Homo sapiens: one gene and its partners. The protein of the gene in region 1 interacts with the protein of each later gene in a pairwise test. Each region holds a gene or a part of one and is shown in the gene's direction. Other genes may lie near its edges.

The links.
Region 2: the proteins of OTUB2 (region 1) and CPSF6 interact in binary tests that used the Homo sapiens proteins (3 or more experiments, as listed by UniProt).
Region 3: the proteins of OTUB2 (region 1) and PHLDA2 interact in binary tests that used the Homo sapiens proteins (3 or more experiments, as listed by UniProt).
Region 4: the proteins of OTUB2 (region 1) and SPART interact in binary tests that used the Homo sapiens proteins (3 or more experiments, as listed by UniProt).

Annotation. Positions count from the first base shown.
Region 1 is NC_000014.9:94,036,340-94,043,339, forward strand, and holds part of OTUB2 (ubiquitin thioesterase OTUB2), read left to right. Parts: intron 1-1,040; coding exon 1,041-1,136; intron 1,137-2,623; coding exon 2,624-2,742; intron 2,743-7,000. UniProt on the Homo sapiens protein: Hydrolase that can remove conjugated ubiquitin from proteins in vitro and may therefore play an important regulatory role at the level of protein turnover by preventing degradation.
Region 2 is NC_000012.12:69,249,569-69,256,605, forward strand, and holds part of CPSF6 (cleavage and polyadenylation specificity factor subunit 6), read left to right. Parts: intron 1-1,560; coding exon 1,561-1,770; intron 1,771-3,482; coding exon 3,483-3,586; intron 3,587-7,037. UniProt on the Homo sapiens protein: Component of the cleavage factor Im (CFIm) complex that functions as an activator of the pre-mRNA 3'-end cleavage and polyadenylation processing required for the maturation of pre-mRNA into functional mRNAs.
Region 3 is NC_000011.10:2,927,753-2,933,489, reverse strand, and holds PHLDA2 (pleckstrin homology-like domain family A member 2), read left to right. Parts: upstream 1-4,069; 5' UTR 4,070-4,125; coding exon 4,126-4,584; 3' UTR 4,585-4,594; intron 4,595-4,822; 3' UTR 4,823-5,217; downstream 5,218-5,737. UniProt on the Homo sapiens protein: Plays a role in regulating placenta growth. May act via its PH domain that competes with other PH domain-containing proteins, thereby preventing their binding to membrane lipids.
Region 4 is NC_000013.11:36,343,368-36,351,004, reverse strand, and holds the start of SPART (spartin), read left to right. Parts: upstream 1-4,610; 5' UTR 4,611-4,780; intron 4,781-4,871; exon of another isoform or gene 4,872-5,204; intron 5,205-5,430; exon of another isoform or gene 5,431-5,825; intron 5,826-7,637. UniProt on the Homo sapiens protein: Lipophagy receptor that plays an important role in lipid droplet (LD) turnover in motor neurons.

The DNA of each region.
Region 1 (7,000 bases):
TGCTCTATTGCATAAAAATGGTCTCCCTGGGTTGTGTGCAGGAGCCAGCCTCATTTATTTTAAGCTGTAAACTATAAGTGGCTTTAACACCATGTCTCTCACAGTATGTTCATGCTGCAATCAAAGCGGCTCTGGGTGGGTTGGAGGCTAGAGTTGCATCTCCTGCTTGTTTGAGCCCTGCTGACAAGATAGCACAAGGCGGAGACCAGGCCCACGGGGAGTTGGCTGCTAGAACGTGTCTCCTGCAGTTTCCTTCACCCTGAAGCTTCCTTTTGCAGTTGCCTCCTCTCTGTCCGCCAATTTCTTCTCTGGCCTGGAGAGATCCTGCCTGTAGGAGGCTTGTCTTTCTGGGTTGGAATTGACCTAGACCCAGAGCTGGGCTGTAGTGTAAACTTTCGCCGGTAGGTGGTGCATGAAGATGCCCTCCTGCCCTGTGCTCCCCGAGCTCAGATCTCTGACACCTTCTCTGGCATCTCCATGTACCAGTGCCACACACTGCGGCCTCTTCTGGTGACCTTATCACCCCCTATCTTGATTGTTTTTCCCTGTAGACTGTGAGCCTTGTGGGTGAGGGAGTGCTAGACGTCCTTCCTTCTGTATTTCCAGCATGTGACACAGTGCTGGGCATGTGGATGTTCAGGAATTGTTGGATGAGTAAAAGAATGAATGAACGAATGAATGAATGCATGAATGAGAGAAGAGGGATGGAAGGAGACAAAGGGCCTTATCCTCCAGCATGAAGGTTCGTTAAGTTTGAGGTACACATTCTGTGAAATGAATCAGGCTTCCAGTAAAAAGATGAGTTTCCTTATAACCAGGGCTATCTCTTCACGATGGCCCCGACCCTGACTATCCCTGTTCTGGAAATGCGGTGATCCCAACGGGCGTCTAGGATGCTGGTAACATACTCCCAGCATGAGAAGGTGGGAAGGTCTCATTCATTGTTGTCTGTAACCGGCAGTTCAGAGGCCACCAGCTCGGGGAGTCCCGTCCGTTGCTTTTGAAATTGTCACAGCATTTCTTCCTTCCCTATCTTTCAGAGTGAAACATCTTTCAACCTAATATCAGAAAAATGTGACATTCTATCCATTCTTCGGGACCATCCTGAAAACAGGATTTACCGGAGGAAAATCGAGGTGAGGCAGAGGGCAGGGAGAAGAGCATCCGAAACTAAACAGGCTGGAGTTGGGAGTGTAATGGTGATGCCTCTTTGAAGGCCGATAGTTTGGGCCAGGTTCCTGGGCAAATGAAAGGATTCCTAGGATATTTTGATGTTGGACATTTGCCTTAGCGATAAATCCTTTCATTCCAAAAAAAAAAAAAGGATTTTTTTTTGTTGAAAAGTTTAGCACTATCCTAATGTTTTATTTACTCACCAATACTTCATTACAACTCTGTGAGGTAAGTACTTTTATTACCCCCATTTTACAGCTGAGGAAACTGAGGCACACAAATTAAGTGGTGGCCATTTAGTTCATGAGTGGCCAAGCTAGGATTTAAACCCAGGCAGCTGAGTCTCAAGCCACATTCATAACTGCTGTGCTGGGAGACCTCTTGGAGGGAAAGTTTACGCCAGTGAGGCTAAAGGGATTTGTGGGAAGGCTGCAGGGATCGCTCATGGAGCACTCACCCGTGGATGGCAGGAGGAGCTGGGTGCCCACTCTGTCCCTCTGGTAGGAGGCCCTGGCCGCTCTCTGCACTCTGCAGGTCTTCCTCTCGCTGCAGGACAGGCTTGCTCTGGCACTGGCCCCACAGGCCCTTCCCTTCAAGTTCCTCTCAGACACGCAGCACCGTTGCTGGGCCTCATTACTTATCCTCAGAGACTCTGATAGGTCCAGCTTGGGTCAGATGTCCATCAGCAGCCAGGGGTAGTGGTGTGGGCATCATGTGATCCGAACGCCGCTGCGGGGCACTTCCAGGGAAGGAGCTGGGCTCTGCAGCCCACTGACTTTTGTGTCCCCCAGAGCCCTCCTGGGAGATGAGCCAGGGGCTCCAGAGAGTGCCTGCCTCCCCACTGCCAGCTGGCCTCAGGTGGGCCCAAGTCGGCTCTGAGCCTTCTCATGGCTATGGGGGGAACAGGAACTCCAAGACCCCTTGAAAACCATCCTCTGCTGTCAAAATGCTGCTTATAGTCCCATGAGGCAGGAAAGGGGATTCCAGGCCAGTTCAGAGGGACACCTACTTACTGCTAGGAGTGGAGCTGGAGCCCACCCCTCCCGCCCCTGCTCACACATGCAACCCCCTACCCCCTACTTCTGCCAGCTCCCGATTCTCAGTGCTGCTCCCCCAGGAAGGCTTCCCCAACTTCCAAAATCCAGTGCAATGCCAGTGCCCCGTGGCACCCAGCCAGGCACTCCTGTCCCCTCACAATGCCACTGTCTAATTATCCATCTTCCCTCCCGGACCGTAGGCTGCCTGGGGGCAGGGACGGACACACAGGACAATGCAGTGTATTTTTATATCAGGGGAATGAACGAGGGTGGGAGGCTGAGGGGATAGCAGCCTGAAGGGAGGGAGCAGACATTTCCTGGGAGAGATGGGGGGCACCTGGCCAGTCCCAGTGCCCAAACCACACAGAGCCGTTGTTGGTGCAAATGCCCACATTTCTTTCTGTCCCCCTCAGGAACTCAGCAAAAGGTTCACCGCCATCCGCAAGACCAAAGGGGATGGGAACTGCTTCTACAGGGCCTTGGGCTATTCCTACCTGGAGTCCCTGCTGGGGAAGAGCAGGGAGATCTTCAAGTGAGTGCCGGGGCCCCTTGGCCTGTCAGGGCTGTGTTCTCTGTGCTAGGTCAGCCTCAAGTCTCTCGGAGGTTTTCGTTACACTCAGGCTGGTTAACCCAGAGAATGAGCTGAAGAGCTGCCTGGCAGAGGCGTTTGATGTTGGGGGTGCCCAGCTGCCTGCTGTGGTGAAGTTGGGGGCAGCCAAGGGGTGGAGGATGGAATCTGTGACCTCCCAGATGCTTTCCAGCCTCTGCTTCCACCACAGGCCTGGGTCAGCCCAGGTGAGTCGCAGGGAGCAGGTACTTCGTGACCCACTCTGAAAAGAAAAGAAAAGACAAACAAAAAGAAGCTTTGCCCCGGTGTTCTGCATAATTCCTGTTGACCTTGGTGTGGAGTGTGTGTGACCCAGGCATTCAGCTGGCTGGGCCTGTCCCTGAGGTTCATGCTGGAGAAGGTCTGTGTCCAGAGCTGCCCCTGTCATCTCGGCTAGTTCAGGGCTTCTCATATCTGAAGTTTGTACAAGGCGCCTGGTTCTCTAGTCCATAGCAAGAAAAAAAAAAGCAAAGACAAACAAACCCCTGAGACCTGGCTTGGACCCGAATTCCTGTCCAGTGGGAGCAGGGCAGAGCAGGGACTGCTTTTGTCACTGGCTCCCAGGAGATGCTGATGCTGCTGGGCCTCAAACCACGCTTTGAGGAGCAAGGAGCTAAGAGACCCACCTGGCTCTTAACCTTTGGGGGTCTCAGAGCCCTTAGAGGCTTTGGTGAGGGCCATGGGCCCTCCTCATCTGAGACCCGCACCGACATGCTCTCTGGAAACAGTACGGGGGGCAGTGGGTCCCAGAGCACTTCTTTGGCTGAGGCAGGTTTCTCAACGGCGGCATGACTGACGTTTTGGGCCAGATCATGCTCACGGTGGGGGCTGTCCTATGCATTGTAGGCCTATTAACAGCATCCCTGGCCCCCTACCCGTGACATAGTAGTAGTAACCCCCTCCCCAAGTCATGACAATCAAAACTGCCTGCAGACACTGCCAAAAACCTCTTTCGGTGGAAAAAAGTCGACCCTATCTGGTTGAGAACTACTAGGTTAAGGCCATCGTCTCCTGTTCAAAATATAGATGATCTCAAAGAGGGTAGAAGTTGAGCCATCTGTTCCTTGGCTGAACCATTCAGATTGTTTTGCCAGTGACAGACTGGCAGAGCCCCTTTTGATGGAGAGTCAGCTATCTCAAGCCATTCCCCTCCCCAACTTTCTCACAGCCCTGTGGGGACCAACACAGCACAGTGCAGGGATTATGACCCCAACTTCATTTCCCCACGACCCATGTCCCCTGGAGTTGTGCCATGCAGCAGCCCTGGGCTCTGAGGCCAGACCTCACTCTCTTGCTTACTTGCTGTGCGACCTTGGGCAAGTGACCTGATCTCTCTGATCCTGTTTTCATGCCTGTGGAAGGTGGACATTATAACACACTTCAGGGGGCTATTGTGAGGACTCAGTGGGTGATGCTGGCTAAGCCCAGCGCCTGCATTTCTCTCTGCACCAGCCCACGTGCTCTGTTTACCTTCACTCCGTCCTGTCTCCCCACTCCAGTCAGCACACACGGGTGCCATGCTCAGACCCTTCTCTAGGCTGTGGGGATACTGCAGTGAACAAGAGAGACAAAATCCCTGCCTTGTGGGGCTTGCGTCCTAATGGTAGAAGATGCACAGTACATGAGTATCACGTTTGAGGTGTCGGATGGTGATAAGTATTGTGGGAAAAATCAGGCAGGAAGGAGGCCGAGGAGTGCAAGGTCTGGGGTTGGCAGTTTCAAGCAGGGTTGGAGAGGTAAGGGCGGCAGGGCACATAGGGCCTTGGGCCTTTCTAAGGACCTTGGCTTTCAGCCTGAAGGACACGGGAGCCACCGAGGGATTGCGCAGCACGGGGGACCTGCCCTGCTGGCTGCTGTGTGCAGGACAGACGGGGGCGGAGACACAGCCAGGGAGATGTGGTCGGGGAGAGATCCAGAGGGGAGATGGCTGTGGCATGAGCAGGTGGATGCAGTGGGCATGGCAAGAAGTGGGCAGGTCTAGACACCTGTGAAGGTGGCGAAAGGATTCGTGCCCGACTCACATGTTGGACATGGCAGAGTCAAGAATGGCTCCCAGAGGTTTGGCCTGAGAGTTAGCAGGATGGAGAAGCCGTTTGCTGCAAAGGAGGGCTGAGGAATATCAGGAGCTGTGTTTTGCGATGCTGTCTGAAATGTCCGGGAGCCATAGAGTAGGGGTGTCTGGTGGGCAGTGGAGGTATAAGGCTGGCGTTCAGCAGGCAGGCCGGGGCACACAGGTGATAAGTCAAACCAAAAGGCTGCATGAGACCACCAGCATTTTTTCTTTCTTTTTTTAAAATATTTTCCTTCTCTCTTTATTTTTTCTTAAGAGATGGGTCTTCCTATGTTGCCTAGGCTGGCCTCGAACTCTTGGGCTCAGGCGGTCCTCCCTCCTCAGCCTGCATCTTCTTAACACAAAAACCGAGACCATGTCACTCCCAAGCTTGAAATATGCCCCTGACCTCTAGGAGCAGTGGAAACCCCTGACACCAACGCCCTCCACACCAGGCCCCTGCCTCTCCTGCCCCGTTGCCTACCCACCCTGAGTTCTAGGCACAGGGACTCACTTATCCTACACACACCAGAGCTTGCAGGCATGACATGCCGCCTGACGCTGCCTGGGCCTAGGTAGCCCTGCTTCTGACCCGGCTGTGGGTTCCTTGGGCCCCAGGCAGGCTGCTTCACTCACTCCTCTGTAGCTCCTTTCCCCAGTTGAACAGTGGCCATAGCCCTGTCACGGACATTAAGTGATTGACTCGTGAGCACTTGGAACACTGACCTGGGGTGTTCCGTGCTAGCTCTTAGCGTCAGCGTCATGCATCCTCCACAAGCCACTGTCTCCCTGTGTGCAGTGAGCCCAGAGCCACCCAGGCAGACACTTGTTCTCTGCTCAGTGCTGCTGCAGGGCTGGAGCAAGCGTGTTGCAGCAGTATGCTTGTTCCAGCCCTGTATCTTGCATACTTGCTCTAGAAGTATGCGAAGTACTTGTGTGTGCCAGAGGCTTGGAGAACACGCGCCGCCTCTGAGGGCAGCCACTGTTACTACCACATCTGATGAGCAAACAGAGCCTCATAGAGGTCAAATGACTTGCCAGAGGTCCCACACAGGCTTGTGTGCAGCCCCAGCGGTCTGAACTTGCACCCCCTCCAAGCCCCAGTGCTATCCTTCTCCCTATCCCTGGCTTGCCTCTCGGGGGTGCATGTCCTGGCCTGGGGGCTTGCCCCCTTCTGACAGAGCCTACGACTGCATGCTGCTTATCTCCGTGCCCCAGTGCCTGGCACAGAGGGGCCCACAAGTCACTGGCGAGGAATGAATGTGGAATGAGGCAGAGGTTTGGGGGTGGGAGGGGGGGCAGGAGAGCTGGGAGCAGAGCAGTGCACTTCATGGCCATGCAGGGACAGAGTGGCTAGAAGAGGGTGCCGGCCCTTGGAGCAGCCCTGGAGGACTGCAGCTGCTTCCTGGAGCTGCTTCTAGTACTCTGGCCATGGGCCACCTAGCCGCAGCTGAAGACTGAACAGGGGGTGCTGATGAGGGTGGCTCCTGAGTGAGAGGCGTTAGCCAGCACTGACCATCAGATCCTTGCCCTGGCCAGGAGGGGAAACCTAGGCAGCAGGTACCACTGCAGTGGAGGCCTCGTCCTCCCAGGCAGCTCTCCGTTCGCCCTCAGCACCCCTGCAGTCAAGGCGTCATCACCATCCACACTTGCGCCAAAGTGGAGCTTATGGCCAAAAGCCACAGGGGGACTTGACAGGGCTGGAGGGGACTGCGGCTAGAAGCCAGCACAGGCTCCATCCCTCCAATCCAGGCACCTCACCCTGCAATCAGGACAAACTAGTCCTGGCCCAGGCAGGACTGTTAGATATGCCAGGACCAGGCAGGGGCAAGCGGCATCTAGGCAAATACTCCTCCTTCTGAGTTAGGAGACCAGCTTCCCGTCCACACCCACCACCTTCTCCCTCCTCACTGCCCCCTGTCCTCCTACAAGGCACCAGGCTTTTCTGGAGCACAGCACCTTCTGAGGTGGCCCAGGCCTCTGTATTCCCTTGTGAACCTTCTGCCTCCTGGGTGCTGTCAGAGCCTCATCTCCGTTCCCAGGCAAAGTGAGGGGCTGGAGAACTAGGTGTGGCCTTAGTGTTCTGCGCCTGCCAGCTGGTCACCCAGGGCCGCTCACCTGGTCCTTGTGGGA
Region 2 (7,037 bases), on another chromosome or scaffold:
TGTCTTTTTCCTTATGTCAGATGTTCTATGTCATAAGAATAAAATGGTTCACACCAATACAAGTACTTAGTTGTGGAAAGGGAGAGTAGAAGATAAAAATGGAGATTTTCCTGTGCTACAGGCTTAGTCAAGCTTATGGTCTATTTAATGGTTATCAAAGGCAATTAAATAGTGTTGAGTGTTCTGCTTTTACCTACATTTCATTTTTCATGTACTTAGTTACAAATTGAACCCTCTTCTATTTTTTTCCTGCTCCTGTTTCTGTTTCATTTTAGTTTTCCTTTTCCCTGATTATCATTTAGGCATGTAAGTGACACCCAGTAGCATTGCTTTAATTCTGCTGGTGACAGTGCCAAAGCTTTACTATACTCTTTTTGTTGTCTGTTGCTTTTCTCTTGCTAATTTGCTTGACTAGATAACTAAGAATTCAGGTAAGCATTAGCTCTTTGTTCACTGAGAATAATACAACTTGCAAGATAATTAATTTGGATTGTTCTACATGTATTTCGTTTATTTCTCTTTACCTTGTTCATTTATTACGACATTTTGAATTATTTACATACCCATATTTCTTCTTTCTTTTATGGCTCAGCTCACTATGCTTTTTTTTAATACTGGTAGCTTCCTCAAGGTTGGAAAACAAGATCTGAATACTATAGAAAATAATAACTATTTTTCTGTGGTCATATTAAAGATATAATGGCTTTGGATTTTGGGGTGATTTTTCTACTGTCAGTTTAAAAAAAACTTGTCTATTTGCATTTGTGTGTTATTACTTCTAGTTAAGAGTATTTCCAAGGAAAGTTTCATGTTACTTATTTTGTTTCCATGTCTTTTTCCAAAAGAACTTATTTTTTATATTATAATAAATATCAGTGGAAAAGTAGGTTTCGTTATATAGAAATTAACTTTAGGCTGGGTGCAGTGGCTCAAGCCTATATTTGGGAGGCCGAGGCAGGAGGATTGCTTGAACTCAGGAGTTCGAAACTAGCGTGGGCAATGTAGCGAGACCTGGTCTCTACAAAAAAAAAAAAAAAAAGAAAAAAAAGAAAAGAAATAAAGGAAACCCCCTTTTTTTGTTTTTTTGTTTTTTTTTGAGATGAAGTCTTGCTCTGTCGCCCAGGCTGGAGTGCAATGGCACGATCTTGGCTCACTACAACCTCCGCCTCCCAGGTTCAAGCGATTCTCCTGCCTCAGCCTCCTGAGTAACTGGGATTACAGGCGTGTGCCACCATGCCTGGCTAATTTTTGTATGTTTAGTAGAGACAGGGCTTCATCATGTTGGCTAGGCTGGTCTCGAACTCCTGACCTCAAGTGATCCACCTGCCTCGGCCTCCCAAGTGCTGGGATTACAGGTGTGAGCCACCACTCCCGGCAAGAAATTCACTTTTTAGACCTGTTCAAGAATACATCTATTGCATAAAGTGGAAAAAGATTTGTACTGAAATCCTTGGCCTTTTTCCATCAGATTTTTAAAACAAAAAGTTGAATTTGTATTCAAGTCTATTTTAGTAGTATTTTGACTTTTGTATAATCTAGAGCATTATTTCTGTATCTCAGGAAGCTGAATATGGTGGGCATGATCAGATAGATTTGTATGACGATGTCATATCTCCATCTGCAAATAATGGAGATGCCCCAGAAGACCGAGATTACATGGATACTCTCCCACCAACTGTTGGTGATGATGTGGGTAAAGGAGCAGCACCAAATGTTGTCTATACATATACTGGAAAGAGAATTGCATTATATATTGGAAATCTAACATGGGTAAGTGAAGTTAATATAAGAATTAAATTATTGGTAATTGATTTTGAACTGCTCTAGTAATTAATGTTTTTCTCCAGATTTTTATAAGTTTGAAGTTACTGTGTTTTTCTATATGTGTTTGCTTGTCCAATGAGGAGGGAAATACAAATATCTTTGCAACATCGTTAATTCGAATTCTTCTAGTTTTGAGTTTTGTGGTCATTCAACTTTTCTTGGTGGAGATACTAGTTAAATATAGTTAAATTAGTTTTGTCTTCAGTTACCTTTTTTATGCTACCACTTTACCTTGCTTCCGATAGCCCAGTTTCACTAAAAATAATGCTCACATGGGGTCTCAAACCAGGATTCAAGTGTAAAAGGAAAGAGACATAGTATCACTCCTGGTTTAAAAATAGTGTCCATTATTTAATTTGTGTTACAAATTTGAGTTTTATTTCTGCCCTTAAATTTGAAATCTGATTTATAGAAGCACTTCTGTGCGTATTATATTTTAATTTGGGTTGTCATGAGACTAAGATTATTGATTTAGAGCTTCATTAAATGCACATATGTATATTTATTTTTTATTAATATTACATCTTAAGTATCATTAAAATAGTCCTATAGAATGTTTGTATTTCTACTTAGTTATATGTATACTTGAAAGTTAAAAACTTGTATATGCAAAAATCAATAAAACTTGGCACCCTTGCATTTCCTTAATAACACTGTATTTTTAAACGTTTTATTTACATTTCTTTTTTTCAGGGGGAGACAGAATTTGCAAAACTCTGTCACCCAGGCTGGAGTGCAGTGGTGTAATCATAGCTCACTGAAGCCTCAAACTCCTGGGCTGAAGTGATTCTCCTGTGTCAGCCTCCAAGTAGCTAGGACCACAGGCATGTGTCACTCTGCCTGGCTAATTAAAAACAAAACAAACACTTTTGTAGAGCTGACTTCTTGCTATATTGCTTCAGGCTGGCCTCAAATTCCTGGCCTCAAGTGATCCTCCTAACCAAGCTCTCAAAGTGCTAGGATTATGGTGCCCAGCCTATTTACATTTCTTTTAAAACTAAATGTAACAGATCTCCCACCACCCAGTCTGAGTATTCTATAAAATTGGAGACAGTAGCAGTGTAGTTATGAAAGTATGGTTGCTAAGTAAGTATTTGGATCTTAGCTCCACCATCTATTATTAGTTTTGTGACCTTGTTAAAGAGTTAAAGCTCTTTAACTTCTATTGTATCATGTGTAAAATGGGTATAATAATAGTGCTTATATGGTTGTTATAAGAGTTAGTTGATACATAAAGTATATGGTAGATATTAAATACATGTTAGTTTTTTCTTATCTGCATTTTAATTCAAAAACAAGATGAAATTCAAAATACTTTCCTTTAATGGGAGGAAGTGAAATTGGTTTTATTCACAATTTAAAATCATAGCAGTTTAAAGCTGTAAGGGACCAGAAACTCTTGAGAGTCAAATCTTATTGTAACCCCAAGGGTATATACCTTCTAGTTTCTGAAATACTTATCAGGGAATGAAGTTAGGTTCCCAGATGGTTTTTGTGCTGTTTAAAAATTGGAGTCTGACTGGCCATAACTAGACTTAGATTTGCACTCAGCATTTATTTTCTCTTTTATGTCTCAAATTTCCCCTTAAAAACTAGACTGGGATAATAAAAATCTTGGTTTTATTTTAATGGTTAATGAGGGGGAAAATATCTTGCAGTGGACAACAGATGAAGACTTAACTGAAGCAGTTCATTCTTTGGGAGTAAATGATATTTTGGAGATAAAATTTTTTGAAAATCGGGCAAATGGCCAGTCAAAGGGGTAAGTTTTTTTTTTCTTTCTTTTTGATTTAGTAGCTAGTGATACAGTTTTTACAAGTTAACTTTCCTTTAAGTTAATGTTAATTACACATGTATACACATGTATACAAACAACACATGATTGTTTACATTGGAAGGAGGTTCTTGGGCAAAGATTGATACTTTTCATTTTACGTACCCTATTACCTAACACACTAAAACCAGTAGAGTGGAAATGTGGACAGATTTATTTTCTATTTTTCCCAAGTTTTCTCTATCTGTGGTTGAAATGGTTGTTGAAATGACAGTTTAAGAACCATTACTCTCCCTGTGATTAAGAGATGGGAGAAGATGGGCAACTGAATAATGTGTTACATGGATATTTTGCTTTATTTCACTACTAAACTATACAAGTGGGATAGCCTCAGCATGAGAACATTATAAATACAGATATCTAAAAGTAAGAAAATAAAATACCACTGTCCTACCATTCATTGATGTTTACTTTTAACATTTTAGTGAAGATTCTTTTGGGCTTTTTCCTAAAAATAAATAAATAAATAAATAATGGAATTATAATTCATGTGTTTTATATGTTTGATATAAGGAATAAAAATAAATACACATCCTCTCTAATGTCTAATTCTTTTGCATCATACCTGGTATGCTACTGTAATTTACCTTTCTTATTTTTGGTTATCGTGGTGGTTTCCACTTTTGCCTATTGTAAATAATGTTGCAGCAGACATCATTTTATATAAGTCTTTTGGTACAGATTTTGGATTTTCTTTTAAGGATAAATTGTTAGATGCACAATGATAAAGAATTTTCTTATTTCTTATATTGCTTACTTATCTTAGAAGATTATACCAATTTATACTAAACTGAGAATATTTTCAAAATATATGCAGAGTCTGAATACTTCTCACTAACTTTACTTATACCACTTGGTCAAAGCCACTATCATCTCTCACTTAAACTTTGGCAGTAGCTTCCTAACTGGAAGTATAGACTGCCCCCTACAGTCTGTACTCCACATAACAGAAGTTCTAAAAAAAAAATGACATTCTGCTCAATCTTCTCATGGTTTCCTGTCTGTCTCATTCTTTACCATTGTCTACAAGGTACTTTCTGGTCTGTTTTCCCACCACCTTTCTAACCCTATCCTACCACTCTTTTTCAGCCACATTAGTCTCTTTGCTGTTGGCCAGACCAATTCCTACCTAGGACCTTTAGCTGTTTTCTCTTCTTGGTTTACTTTTCCCCCTCAAATATCCACATGGCTTACTCTTTGACTTCATTCAGGACTCAAACTGTTTAAGAGTTTTCTTCCATGACCATCTTGTGCAAAGTAGCACCTTCCTATCCTGTTTCCTTTATTTCTGCTCTGATATATTTTACTCGTTTGTTGTCTCCTCTTCCAAGCCTTTAAGCTTAATGAGAACAGAGATTTTGTTTTGTTCTCTATTACTTCTCCAGCTCTAGAATGGTACCTTGCGTATAAGAAGTGGTGCTTAATAAATATTTGTTAAATTAATTTAGTTTTTTCTAAATGTTGTGACCCAAGATAATCCTGGTGCAAACAGCAGAACTTGTTGACTAAAATAAGAAGGATAATTTAAAAGATCATATTGAACATTAGGGGGAAAAGAGCTTAAGCTTCTTAAGCTACTAAGACCCTCCCTCCCTCAAATAATTTAGAATATCCTGTAACTATACGAATTGGTAATCATTCTGATTATTTTAAATTTGTTTTTCTTTTTGAGGTATAATTCATATGCCATAAAATGCAGGCTTTTAAATGTACAATTCAATGATAATTTATTATATTTATGAAGTTTAGCAACCATTACCACTGTCTCATTCCAGAACATTTCATCACTCCAAGAAGGAACCTTGTACCTGGTTAGCAGTCACTCCCATTTCCTCTCTTCCTATCTGCTGGCAACTGCTAACGTGCTCTGGATATGCCTGTTCTGGACATTTCATCTAAATGGAATCATAAAATACGTAGTCCTATGTGACTGGCTTTTTTCCTTAGCATAATGATTTTAAGGTTCATCCATGTTGAAGCATGCATCAGCATTTCTTTTTATGGCTGAGTAATATTCCACTACATGGATATAGCACTTTTTTCTTTTAATCTATCAGTCGATGGACGTCTAGGTTATTTCCACTTTTGGCTATTAAGGAAAATGCCCCTGTGAATATTTGTGTACCCATTTTGTGTGAACATGTATTTTCAGTTCTGTTGGATGTGTACCTAGGAATGGAATTACTGGGTTAATATAGTAACTCTATGTTTAAATGTTTGAGGAATTACCAGATTATTTGCCAGAGGCATTGTGCCATTTTATTAATACGTGCTCATCAGCAATGTGCAATGGTTCCAGTTTCTCCACATATTTATTTATTTATTTATTTATTGAGACAGAGTCTCACTCTGTCACCCAGGCTGGAGTGCAGTGGCGCAATCTTGGCTCATTGCAACTTCTGCCTCCCAGGTTCAAGCGATTCTCCTGTCTCAGCCTCCCAGCGTGGGACTACAGGCACACGCCACCATGCCTGGCTAATTTTTGAATTTTTAGTAGAGACGGGGTTTCACCATGTTGGTCAGGCTGGTCTTGAACTCCTGACCTCATGATCCTCCTGCCTTGGCCTCCCAAAGTGCTGAGATTATAGGCGTGAGCCACTGCACCCGGCCTCTCCACATCTTTAATACTTGTCTTTTTGATTATAGCCACCCTAGTGGGTATGGGGTGGTATCTTGTGGTTTTGATTTGCACTTCCCCAATAGTTAATGATATTGTACATCTTTTTATTGTAGCAAAAAGTGGAAGCAACCCAAATGTCCATGAACTGATGGATACATTTCTTTTAATGTTGTATATTTATAATGGAAAATTATTCACCCATAAAAGTAAGTGGTGATGCATGCTGTAACAGTGGATGAAGCTTGAAAACATGCTAGTTAAAGAAGGCTGGTCACAAGGGACCTCCTATTGTATGATTCCATTTAGATGAAATGTCTAGGATAGGCCAGTCCAGAGACAGAAATTAGGTTTAGTGGTTCCATAGGGTACAGGGATGGGAAGGAATGGGAGCGATGGCTAATGGATATGGAGTTTCTTTTTGGGGTGATGAAAATGTTTTAAAATTGATTATGGTGGTGGTTATAACACTGTGAAATACTAAAAACCACTGAATTATATATTTTGAATGACTGAATTCTATGGTATGTTATACAAGATGAACAAAAATGTGTACTCGTATAGTTAAGAAATATTTTTAGTTTTTAAAATTATTTATTTTTAGAGACAGGATCTCACTGTGTTGCCCAGGCTGGAGTGCAGTAGTGTGATTATAGGTTACTGTAGCCTCAAACTCCTGGGCTCAAGCAATCCTCGTGCCTCAACCTTCTAAGCAGCTGGGATTACAGGCATGAGCCACTGTGCCCAGCTGTTGTTTTAGAT
Region 3 (5,737 bases), on another chromosome or scaffold:
CAGGGAGTTTCGGAGAGGTGCCCGCATCCTACTCCAGCTGCTGACAGCCTCACACAGCTGGGCTCCGGTGCCAAGGGTCCAGGCAGCTGGACAGGGCAGCCAGTGTCCCAGGCCAGATGTTTGGGCACCCAGACTGTACAATGCCTGCCCAGGGGTGGGGGCCCTTGGCTCAGGCTCTGCATGAATCCTGGATGTGGCCCCTCAGATAAATATCAGTAAACCCGGTTTGGACTGATGCTGCCTGACACCACCAACTCGAGGCAGAGCCCCCTCCCCATCCTGAGAAGCAGTCACAGAACATCAGGGCTGTTTCCTGCCCCGAGCCACAGGGTGCCACAGAATCGGGGAAGCTGTGGATGTGGCCGCACTGGCCACTGTGTAACCTGGGTGAGTCACCACCTCTCTGAAACCCCCACCCAGTGTTCCCTGCAAACCCAAGAAAGCAGTCTCAACAGGGAGAAATGACCGCACAGAACTAGCACGGGGCAGGGCCACACGGACTCTCCTGCCGGTGCCTGGCCCTGGCATCTCTCCGGCAGGTGGTTCCTCCGCCTCCAGCACGTGAGTGGTCCAGAACCCTCGTAGAAGCAGGTCCCATGGGGTGTGGCCGAATCCACGCCGGGTTCCAATCTCTGTGCTGTGCTGGAGAAGCTCCCAGGCTCTTGGCTATCAAATGGCTCTAGGAGGGGCATTCCTCAAAAGACCCTCATGTGGGGTCCCTGTGTCAGCACTCTTCTGCCTCAACATCCCTCCCCCACATCCCAGGAAGTGAGTGTCACAGCCCTCATCCTCCAGAGGGGACCCTCAGGCAGGCCTGCTCTGGGGGATAGAGATAGGGTCCCTCCTTGGAAAGGTGACCTTGACAAGTCACTGCACCTCTCTGAGCCACCCTTTCTGCATCTGCAGCTTGGGGCCAGTGCTTCTCCTGGGGGCACCGCTCAGCCCCAGGTGGGACCAGGTGAGGCGGTGAGGCTCAGGCCTCAGGCAAGGGAGGCCGAGCGGGGGCTGGCAGAGGGCGGGTGGCTCAGAGGGGCAGACGGCAGTGTGAGTTAGTGGTGGTGGTAAAGCCCCTCGGGTGGATGGTGGACGCAGAGAGGATGGGGCAGCCCCTGTGTGCAAGTACCTGCCAAGTTGGCATGGTGTCCTCCAAGCCCCTCTCACCTCCTAAGGCCGTGGTTTATTTTTGCCCATGTCCATAAAGACACCCTGGGGGCTCCTGAAGTCACCTGCTGGTCCAGGGCTGGTAAGGCTTGGGAGTCGGCTCCCTCCAGCCCCCACATTGGCAACCAGGTTCAGGCTGGTTTGGCCGAGCAGGGGCCCAGGGTGTCTAGCAGCTGCTGGGGAGGCCAGGGCCACTACAACTGAGCCCCTGGGGCAGGGACTGTGGGCAGAGAAGCTGCCTGGGGAGGCCTGGCCTCCAGGGCTCAGACCTGATTTCCAGCAGCCCCTAAAGGGCCATCCACCCCCATACCCCCCAGGTCTTCACAGTGTCCATGAGGGGAATAGCAGAGAGGGGCTGAGTGGGCAGGAAATCCCCTAGGGAGGGCAGGGCCTCTGAATCTCGGCTGCACACCCTGCCCCCTGGCCTCCCAGCTCCTGCCCCACCTGTCAGAGCATCACCCCTGGGTTGTAAGTCCTGCCCCCAGGGGAGTGAGTTTCCCAGCCTCCCTTGAGAGGGCCACTGGGGTACAGGCAAAGAGAGGAGCTGGGCGGGGCTGGGGGAGCACACCTCACCTGGCCTCACCTGGTTTCCAAACCCTCTTCCTCCCCCTCATTTCTCTCAGCCCCTTATCTGCTCCTGCCTGTTCTCTGTCCCTTCCCCAAGGCCCTCTCCATCCTGAACCAGTTTCCTCTTCTGTGGAACAGGGGCTGGAGTGCCCACTTTGGGGAGTTCTCTGGGTTAGGTGGAGGCTGGGCACAGTGGTGGCATACGGGCACCACTGGCCCTTCAAGGTCTCCTTGGAATCTTCGAGGGCACGCCCTCCCCACAGAGTCCTCCAAGCTGTCCTCCTGGCCTCCAGTACCCCCGACCCCTATCCCCATCCTCATGTACCTGCTGTGCCCCTGGGGTTTAGAGGGATTCCTCTCCCCTCCTCTGGGGTCCCAGCACCAGCCAGGCCTGCAGGCACACAGTAGGTGCTTAAGCAACCACGAGTGTCGGGGGATTTGCCTGGAGCCGAAGTTCCACTGGCTGGCCCCTCAATGGGGTAGGCAGGCTGGTGGGCCTGGAGGTGTTCCAGGCACCTGTGGGCTGGCGCAGTGACAGAGCGCTCTGCCCCCGGCCGCTTCTCCTGGTCTCCCACTGCCCAGAGGTGCCTCTTGCCCAGGTCCCACTGTCCGGCAGCCCAGGGCCCTCTGGAAGCAAAAGAAGGGACACCAGAGTCCGAATCCTTCCTGCAGCCTCTCCGGAACAATGCTCGAATCCCCTCTCCCCGCCAAAGGCTGACCTCCCCTCACCCACCCACCCTACCTGCTGCTCCCTCACCACAGGATCCCAGCCCTGCTGCAAGGACAGGTGTCAGGTAGGGGGCAGTGTTGACCCGCCGGCCCCAGGCAGGTGTCTCACTCCCAGGCCAGAACCCTGGCACAGCCCAACCCTGCCCTCTGCCGGCACTGCCCCTCCACACCACATCCCTGCCCACTGCCAGGTCCTCTGGCCACACCGGTGGGACCACCGGGCAGCTGCTACCTGCATGCCATTCACAGAACCGGGTCTGGGGCGCTCCTCTGAGCCGGACGTCTCTTTATCCTTTACAGTGACCCTGAAGGGCAGGTGGAGGTAGGGCTGGTCCCAGGTCTGGGTTTTACGCTCTGCTGCCACTGTCTTGACATTTTAAATACATTTTGAATCAGGGGACTCTCGTTTTCATTTTGCGTGAGCCCCGTCATTGAGGCCAATTCTGACCCCAGAGTTGGGACTTCCTGCTGTAACCACCCCAGGGCGCAGCTAGGGGGCAGGGGTGCGGGAAGGTGGGAGACGTGGAGTAGTAGCCGGGGTCTCTGGGGTCCTCTCGGCCGGCTCCACCCCCACCCCTGGGAACCCGGGAAGAGCCGGCTTTCGCTTCCTGTCTATTAAACCCTTTAAAGGAAGAGGGTAAATAAAACCGCCCGTCTGCCCAGCTGGAAAGCGATGACTCAGCCGCCCCCGCCGACCCTCGCCCCCAGGCTGATCCCAGAGAGCGGGCGTCGCGGCCCAGCCCGAACCCCTCAGCTCCTGGGACCTCTCTCCGGTCCGGGTCGTGGGGGCGCGGTCGGAGCAGTCCGTACCCCAGTTCGGGACACTACGAGGGCGCAGGGAGGAGAACGGGCTTCCTCTTCCCCTTCCATTTTCTGAGCTCTATGGGTTGCTGGTCTAGCCCTTTCCACGTGTTCCCTAATCCAGCAAAGGTTACTGTTCCCATTTCACAGAAGCGAAAACCGAGGCTAAGAGAGGTGGTCGTTCTTGGCGCAGCCCGTGGGTGGCAAGATAGGAGCTCGGTCCGCTAGGGCAGGGCCACTTTCGGAGAGGGTCTCTGGGCGGCCCTGGGAAAGGCCCCCGAACAGGACGGAACGGCCAGGGCTCGGGAGTAAGGAAGGGGGCCTCGACCCTCCTTCTGCCCCGGGAGCCCGAGAGCGGCAGGGCTGGACTTGGGGCGCCTGGAGGGTGAAGGTCTGGTCCCGGCTGTCTCCCCACGGTGGGCCGGCCCCGGGCCCGCGGGTGCTTCCCGGGGCTCCCCGGCGTGAGTCATCGCGGGCAGGGCTGGCTGCAGCGCATTCTTCCGCGGGGCCGGCCTGCGAGACGGTGCGGGCGAGCGCCCGGGCGGGGCGGGACCTCGAGTCACCCCACGGGGCCGGACAGCTGGGGCACGGGGGGCAAGAGGAGCGCGGGCTTCTGAGATGGGAGGGGACGGCCGGGGACCGACCAGAGCGCGGACGCGACGGTGCGGGCCCGGACGGCTGGGCTTGGGGAGGGTATGGCCCGGGGCGCGCGGGGCTCAGGCGGGCGGGGTGGCCCGAGGGCCGGGGCGGGGCGGGGAGGGGCGGGGCGGGGAGGGGCAGCTATAAAGGCCGCGCCGGGGCCACGAGGAGCAGAGCCGGCGCCGTCACCGCCCGCATTGCCGCTCCCAGTCCCGCGCTCGGCACGACATGAAATCCCCCGACGAGGTGCTACGCGAGGGCGAGTTGGAGAAGCGCAGCGACAGCCTCTTCCAGCTATGGAAGAAGAAGCGCGGGGTGCTCACCTCCGACCGCCTGAGCCTGTTCCCCGCCAGCCCCCGCGCGCGCCCCAAGGAGCTGCGCTTCCACTCCATCCTCAAGGTGGACTGCGTGGAGCGCACGGGCAAGTACGTGTACTTCACCATCGTCACCACCGACCACAAGGAGATCGACTTCCGCTGCGCGGGCGAGAGCTGCTGGAACGCGGCCATCGCGCTGGCGCTCATCGATTTCCAGAACCGCCGCGCCCTGCAGGACTTTCGCAGCCGCCAGGAACGCACCGCACCCGCCGCACCCGCCGAGGACGCCGTGGCTGCCGCGGCCGCCGCACCCTCCGAGCCCTCGGAGCCCTCCAGGCCATCCCCGCAGCCCAAACCCCGCACGCCATGAGCCCGCCGCGGTGAGTGACTGCCCGCGTCCCGGCGAGCCCTGCGCCCTAACAGCCGGGACCGGGGCCTTTGGGAAAAACCACTTCAACCCCAGACGGCGGGGCGGGGGCGCTGCACCTCCTTGGGGGACCCGGCGCCCCGCAATCGCGCTGGCCCCCTCGCGTCAGGGTCTCGGGGCCCCTCAGGCTGGACCCGGACCGGCCCTGGCACAGCTCTCTGACCCAGTCCTTTCCCCACAGGGCCATACGCTGGACGAGTCGGACCGAGGCTAGGACGTGGCCGGCGCTCTCCAGCCCTGCAGCAGAAGAACTTCCCGTGCGCGCGGATCCTCGCTCCGTTGCACGGGCGCCTTAAGTTATTGGACTATCTAATATCTATGTATTTATTTCGCTGGTTCTTTGTAGTCACATATTTTATAGTCTTAATATCTTGTTTTTGCATCACTGTGCCCATTGCAAATAAATCACTTGGCCAGTTTGCTTTTCTACCATCCGGCTGTGGCTCAGTGAGACTCCTGCTGGGAGGGTGGAGGCCCAGGAATGGGCGGGCAGGACACCCTCATCCAGTCCTGCGGGGCTGGTGTGAAAGGCGCTGGGAACCGGCTTTGAATGAATAAATGAATCGTGTCATCTGCTGGGCCTGGTCCACACCCTCTTTTCCAAGCAGCCTCCCCAGAGGCCAGGAAGTGCCCTGGGGCTTGACCCTGGCTACCTTCTGCTCCTTGGTGTGTCCTGAGGAATTGAACCTGGGGAGGACAAGGGCCCTGGGTCCGAGCTGCTGCTGCCTGTGGTGGGGGAACCTTCCCCAGCAGCACTTCCTGCCCACAAACCACCCGCGCAGTCAGACCAGAAGGAATCCCTCAGCCCTCTGGCTGCCCGCCGCCAGCCGCTCCTTGCCAGTGCCCGCAGTGTGGGGCGGGCAGGGTCGCCTTTGCTTCTGGGGGAACAGGAGAGAGTTCTGGGCTGTCTCCGATGGTGGGGCAGGAGGCAGAGGTCCCTGCACCTCCAGGTACTGGCCCAGGACATTGGGGTGGAGAGGCCTGAGTGCAGCAAATCCCTGCCCCTCTTTCTGAGATAGCTGACCACGGCTTTCTGCCCTCCGGTCTGGCTGTGCTCTTTGAAAGACAGGGATGGTCTGAGACAGTTAGGGTTCAG
Region 4 (7,637 bases), on another chromosome or scaffold:
CTCTCTGCTACAAGTATGTGATGTAAAAATATTTGACCGGGGTATGTATACCACTGGAGGTATGCAGAAATTTACAGGGATATAAGATAAGATAATCAATACCCAGATTTTAATTTTTTATGTGCTATTTCCTAGTATCTTTTTTCCTACTCCTCCTTTCACACTAAAACTTTTCCCACTTTATGCAAGAAATACACAGCTCCCTAAATCTTACTCTGGTGCATTACCCAGGGGTAAAAGCCCCAAAAGTGCCATGATTTCAAAATATTGTTCTCTTCTATAATGGTATGATGGTAATTTTCATTTAAAGACCTCAGCCACAATTATTCACTAGTTTTAGAGAATTATTTTTTTTAGAAGGATCTGGTAAGAAAAAAAGACAGGGGAGAAAAGTTAGAAGTTAAGTGACAGCAGCTGGTTTTTAGCCAATTATTCCTATCCTGAGATGGCCAGGTGGAAATGACCAAATCAAATCTCCTTGTAAACATGCAAGGTATATTCTGGTGGAAAGAGAATGGGGAGTCCTTGTCTATGAAATGCTTTTTAGCAGGGTACACCTGGTCTGTCTAGATGGCCTAAGGTAAATAAACCCGGAATTGATCGATATATTAATACATGGAATGGCCCAGTGGAAAATGTCAGTGTCCACCATGTAATTATTTCAGTATAAAACGGAGATAGTTCCTGACTGAAAGAGCTCCATCTGTGTAAGTGTTCACCGGCATAACTTACTCAGAGACCTCACCTGCGAGATCTAAGCCAGAATGTGTTCTAAGGAATTCGGGGAAGCCCTGGGGACCTGGGTTAGTGGTTTTGGATACTGCCATTATTTTCTTGTGACTGGGTAAAAGAAAGCTCTGAATCTTGTCAGTCTGATTTGACAATCCAATCCTTGTTTTACCTCAATAAGATATATTAAATGTTAAAAATGGCTTTTTACATGTTTCCAAATATACGCAATTATTTTCTGCTAATCTCAAGCACCCCTTTGGCCTAAGCAGATCCAAGTTTTGTGATGCTTGCAGCTTTCACAGTTTGAATGGCCTTCTGTAGGAAAATAATAAAAGTGAATCAAAAAATTACTAATTTAAAAAAGCTGACGAATACTACAGATACCACAAAATCCAGAAAAATAACATCATTCTATTATTCAGGTGCTTGGCACAGCCCATAATACTTTCCCCCACCTTTCTTGGCTCTATGCTGATTGCTTCTTCATATGAAAATGATTTTGCAACATATTCCACAGAGATAACAGATAATTCAGTTTTTCCTCTAGCATAGTTTATCAAGATTAGCTTTTTAATATAATTTAGGAAAGCTCAGTTCAGCTTCATAATTCAGTATTAAGAGTGTCACAGAATTTCACAATTATCGAATTTGGAAGGACCACTAATACAGGTTTTGACCAGGTACTGAGGAGCAAACCAAATCCTTTGCTTACACTTTTCTACAGATGAGCTTCTGGCCCTGTTCACTTTACTTGTTCCTTCTACCACATCCTTCTGGTACTGGGCACTGTAGGACCCAAACAGAAAGCAATATGGTGCCTGGCCAGTGTCTTTCTGTTTGGATGCCAGGTAATTCTGCAGTCAGTAGTACGAATATTCCTAGAAGTCAGCACTAGACTACTATGGCTAGCAGTAACTTAACCATACGTGGAAGCTTCTGTGAACATAAACATACCTCATAAAACAAAAATTAACCACACTGACTTACTGCAGTTTTTTGCTTGTTTGTTTGAGACAGAGTTTTGCTCTTGTTGCCCAGTCTGGAGTCAATGGCACAATCTCGGCTCACGGTGACCTCCACCTCCCGGGTTCAAGTGAGTCTCCTGCCTCAGCCTCTTGGGTAGCTAGGATTACAGGCATGCGCCACCACGCCCAGGTAATTTTGTATTTTTAGTAGAGACCGGGTTTCTTCATGTTGGTCGGGCTGGTCTCGAACTCCCGACCTCAGGTGATCCGCCTGCCTCGGCCTCCCAAAGTGCTGGGATTACAGGTGTGAGCCACCATGCCTGGCCTGCAGCTTTGTAGTTAAGTTTTGAAATTGGAATGTGTCAGTCCTCCAACTTCATTCTTCTTTTTCAAGATCTGTGTGTGTGTGCTCATGTGGCTATTCTGGGTCCTTATATTTCCCTGGATTGTATGAATTTTAGGATCAGCTTGCAAAATTCTGCAAAAAAGTCATTTGGGATCTTGACACGGATTGTGTTGCGTCTGGAGGTCCATTTGAGAAGTACTGCCATCTTCCCAATATGAAGTCTTTCAACCCTTTAACATGGGATGTCTTTCCATTTATTTAGGTCTTTAAGTTCTTTCAGCAATGTTGTATGGTCTTCAGCATACAAGTCTTGCACTTATTACATTTATTTCTAAGTATTTTATTCTTCTTGATAATATTATGAATGGAATTAATTTCATTTTTGAAATGTTCATTGCTAGTGTATAGAAATACTATTGATTTCTGTATGTTGACCTGTTGTCCTGAATCCTTGATGTACTCATTTATTAGTTCTAACAGTGTTGTAGTAAATTCTTTAGGGTTTTCTATATATAACAATTTTGTGTATAGAAATTCTACATGTTTTAAACACATTCATCTTTATGGCTGTTGGAAATTTAAAAAATTCTATTTAAATGTATGTACTTTTTAAATGTAAAGAAGTAGAGTAGATGACCAATAAAAGATTTCCTTTCTTTTTTTGGTGGGGGCCAGGGGGTACAGGGTCTGGCTCTATTGCCCAGGCTGGGGTGCAGTGGCACAATCTCAGTCACTGCTGCCTCTGCCTCCCCAGCTCAGGTGATCTTCCTGCCTCAGCCTCTGGAGTAACTGGGACTACAGATGTGTACCACCATGCCCAGCTAATTTTTGTGTTTTTTTGTAGGGACGGGTTTCGTCATGTTGCCCAGGCTGGTCTCGAACTCCTGGGCTCAAGCGATTCTCTTGCCTCGGCCTCTGGAGTAGCTGGGACTACAGGCATAAGCCACCAAGCCTGGCCAATATTTGCAAGACTAAAGAAATATTGACATACAATTTCACAATATGGAACGGAAATATGAGTTCAAGAAGAAAAGAAATGATGTAAAATTTCCTTCTGTTAAAAGCTTGTTCATGTAGTTTTAAAAATTGATGATTTTAGATATTAAATTGGTATTTAGATTCCACTGGCTACATTTAAAAGTTATATAACTTTTATTTTAAAATGTTAATTTATAATAAAACAGAAGTTGCTTCTTTTGTAACTATTTAAGTCAGATGAGAAATTGTGATGGTCAATCCAAAAACGTGGAAGTGAGAATACAGTCATAGTCTTTGGGGACTCCTTTGGGGGTATAAGAGCAAAATCATTTTGAAACCACTGTATTAATATATTCCTAATAGGTTTTGCTTTTTGGGATGACTGACTGCTACCTTTCTGAGATTTGAGGGAGTCACTTAACTGGTCCTAAGGCCAGGCGCGGTGACTCACGCCTGTAATCCCAGCACTTTGGGAAACTGAGGCAGGTGGATCGCTTGAGGTCAGGAATTCGAGACCAGCCTGGCTAACTTGAGGTCAAGCTTTCAAGACCAGCTTGGCCAATATGGTGAAACCCCGTCTCTACTAAAAATACAAAAATTAGACGGGAGTGGTGGTGCACAGCTGTAATTCCAGCTTCTCTGGAGGCTGAGGCATGAGAGTCGCTTGAACCTGGGAAGCAGAGGTTGCAGTGAGCCGAGATCATGCCACTGCACTCCAGCCTGGGCAACATAGTAAGACTCTGTCTCAAAACAAAACAAAAACACAACAACAACAAAACTGGTTCTAAATGCTCCGGGCAAGTACATACTGCTTTTTCTTTTTTCTGTTTTTTTTTCCCTAAGGCAGCCCTATTGAAGAGTCTGTCATCTACAATATTTTACTAATTTAAAAACACTTGTCAAGAAGGGTAAAGTATGTTCATCTTGATTTTACTCTTTGTATCCCGGAATCAGGAACTAACAGTTTTATGATAGTGATATAGACTTTACACACACACCAAGACTTAAAACACGTGGTGCAGGCGGGCTTTTGGAAATTAACTGTGCTCTGGATACAGAAGTCACAAAGCTCAGGCTGCAGAGACATTGAGGGGATAATCAGCCTTTATTGTCTCTCGTGCACTGTGCCCAGCGCTCCCTCTAGCGGCTACAAGCGCTCACTGCCCACACTCTCTACTAGGCTCTCCGGAGGCCTCGGTTTCGCTGGAGAGAAAGAGATTGCGCAGGCGCCGAGCAGCCGACGTGGCCGCAGGGGACCGTGCCTGGGGGGGTCTGCGCGGGGCCGCTGACTCGCGAGGTTCTCTGTCGCCTGCCGCCCTCGCTCCTTTTCTCCCCTTCTAGAGTGTTACGGTGACTCTTGGGTCCGAAGGGGACGGACGTCCTCCCACGTACCATTTAGAAGGTCAGAGTGGGCAGAACCTAGTCTGAGCAGGCCGGTGATGAATCCGCTGGCAAGACGCGCGCGTGGGTACTCACGTGACCTAGGCTGCGGCGGCGGCGTGCTGCGGGCTCTGTGGCGGGAGCGAGGCCGACGGGCGGGGCCGCGCGGCCGCGTGACGCGAAGCGTTCGAGAGCGCGCGTCGTGGAACGTCTTGGTTGCCACGGCAAGCGCGCGCGCGAGGCCTTGGGAACCTCGGGACCGGCCCCCGGCGAGCGCAGCGGCGCCCAGTGTAAGGGAGTGGGAGCTGGTCCGTGCCGCGGCGGCCGCGCAGGGAGCTCTCGAGGCAACGCCGGGGCGCCCGAGGTCTGGAAGGCGCAGGTGGGGCGCGGGGGAGTTCACCCCTGCGCGGTCCCTTGGGTGGGCGGGGTGGGCGCCCCAGGCCCCGCGGACTCGGCTGGGAGGCTGAGCGGGCGACGGTCACGGGACAAGGGTGGAGGGGGTGGGGACCTCATCCGAGTCTCAGAGATGGAATTTTCGAGGAAGGGAGCGATTTCGAGAGAGAATAGTTTGAGAAGTTGTTCTCAGTCCCTTCTCTCGCGGGAGTGTGGTATTTAGGGAAGCTTCGGCCTCTTAACCCATGGACTGTTAGGATGGAGGGAATCCTTCCCGCTCGATTCCTATCGCGGAGTCCTTTCGGAGCATCGCTATTGATCATTCTCGCCGCCCCAACCCCGTTGTTTACTTTGGCTTCGCAGATCTCTGTGGTCTTTTGCCCTCCCGCAGCGCCCATGGCCCCGTCAAGGTTGGGCAGCCTTTCTCTGCAAGAAGGCCCACGAACAACTGCGGTTATATTGGGATGGATTGCGCGTGATTTTACTCTTTACAATACATTCTTTCATGCTTCCTAGGGATTGAGCTGCGCGGCGGATCCCTCCGACTTAATTCTGGGCCTGAGAAAAGTTTCTCTTGGAATGCGCAGTTTCGTGACGCAGCATTATTGCGTGACTCTAGGGCTGACCCAGTTTTTCACTTTCTAATTGTAAGGAAGTGCGCTAGTAGTCCACCGAGGATCCTCGAGGTTGGCCTTATTGTATCATAATTTAACGAATTTGCGTTCCAGGTTGTTACAGCCTTTGAAATAATGGCCTCATATTTAAGAATGTAGCAATTTTTCTTTGAAATTTCCGAAAGTGGGGAAAAAAGTAATAGAAGACTGCACCTATATGGAATTATTTTCTGATTCGCAGTTCTTTATAATCGTAGACTTAATTTGGTGGCTTTATTGGACCTGTTTGAAACAGGAAGCCTTTCTGTAATGTGGTTTCGGGTCGGCTTCACCTCTGGCACTCTCTGAAACGTCGTTGTCTATGGTTTCCCTAAGAAGCTAGAATGAGCGGGATGCTACGGAGGGAGGTGTATACAGGTGTTAGACAAAGCCCCCTCCGCTTTTTTGGTAAAGGGCCAAATAGGCATTAGATCAACTTGTGCTAGCTCTAAGGAGTTAAATGCGGTATTATTAAAGACTGCTTGTAATGTTGACTGTTAAGTGAGAGTGTTACTTCTTTCAGTGTTTATGGAATCGAACTAAATTGCTAGGTATTTTAATGCAGAATTTTACCTTTTCTCGGGTATTTTTTAAGACATACACAGACATACATGTAGTTATGTTGAAATAAATGTGTTTTATTAGAACGTTAAAAAATTAGAATTTAGGTGAACTACTGGTATCGGAACAGATTTTGGTTTGTTGTTGAAGACTGTACACTGGTGTAGGTACTGTTTAATACATCAGATTGTCATTTCAAAGACTTTGTCTTCTTAACTTTGAAAATTAAATAATGTGAAATAATGTGATAATGGTTTTTATCTTTTCAGGACACTTGATTGACACTTAATTGTGCTTAGGAATAGAATAGGCTTTTTTTTAAGTCACCATCCTCCAATCCTTATTTCTGTAAAATGTATTTTCTGAGACCGCTGAGGATATAGCAAATCCCAGTCACAAAATAAAAATGTGATATTTTAATATAAACCTTTTTCTTTCTGTGTTGAGATTCCCCAGAGATTAGACTGAAATTGACCATTAGACTTATATATAACCTCTAGATACCCAGGCTCTTCTCTCGTGTATCCTTTTTTTCTCTTTAAGATGGAGATGTAGCAAGGAAGGTTATTAAGCAATCCTGTGGAATTAGCCCTCCCACTCCACCCCTACACACAGGCACACTCTTCTTTCTCAGTAGCCATCTTGTTCCCTCCATTGACACATTATTAGGAAATCTTTCATCACACCGTATGTAAAATAAGCTTAGAAATAAACGTATACCCAAGGTAAATATTGCTTCTAGCTATATTCCTTCATTATGCCTCGCTTCTACTTTCAAATGCTACCTATTGAAGATTTAAGCCACATGACTTTCTACGACGGGACACTCTGGGTTTTCTTCACCCCTCCCTCACTCTGCTGACTTGTAAACATAGTAGGACTTTTAGATTTGGAATCAAACACATCTCATCTAATTTTCATTTTCATTTTTCTTTTCTTTCTTTCTTTTTTTTTTTTTTTTAAAGAGACAAGGTCTTGCTCTGTCACCCAGGCTGGTTGGAGTGCAGTGGTGCAGTCATAGCTCACTGCAACCTTGAACTTCTGGGCCCAAGCGATCCTCCGGCCTCAGCCTGTGCAGTAGCTGGGATTACAGGCGAGAGCTCATTTAATTTTCTTGACAGATAATCTTCTGATCCATGAACTGATTTGAATGTATCATTTACTAGCTCTCTTCTTGGGCAAGCTGCTCAATATTTGTAAAACATTTTTAAAATCAGATATCAACCTCCAAGAGTGAGGATTGGATAACCTTAGAAGGGTGCCAGACACATATAGAGAGCTTAACAAAAGATAGTAAATTTTGGTGCTTCTGAGGGCCAGAGACAGACCATGTCCATTATATCTTTGCTATATATTATAGTTGTGAGTGATTTTTAAAGCAGTACTTTTAATTTGCTTGTGAACCCCCAAATAATTTTTGTAAAACTGTCCCTCTTGCACACTTTTGGTTAACTTACAGCATTTTACATCATGCGTTAGTTGAAAAGAATGCAGTTTCCCACATGGTATTGATATTAACATTTTAATATTGGTACATCATTCTTTCACCTGTATTCAGTGGGGTATCATATCTTTGTAGTTTTATATCCATCACCATCAATTTTTAAAATACATTATATTTTACACACT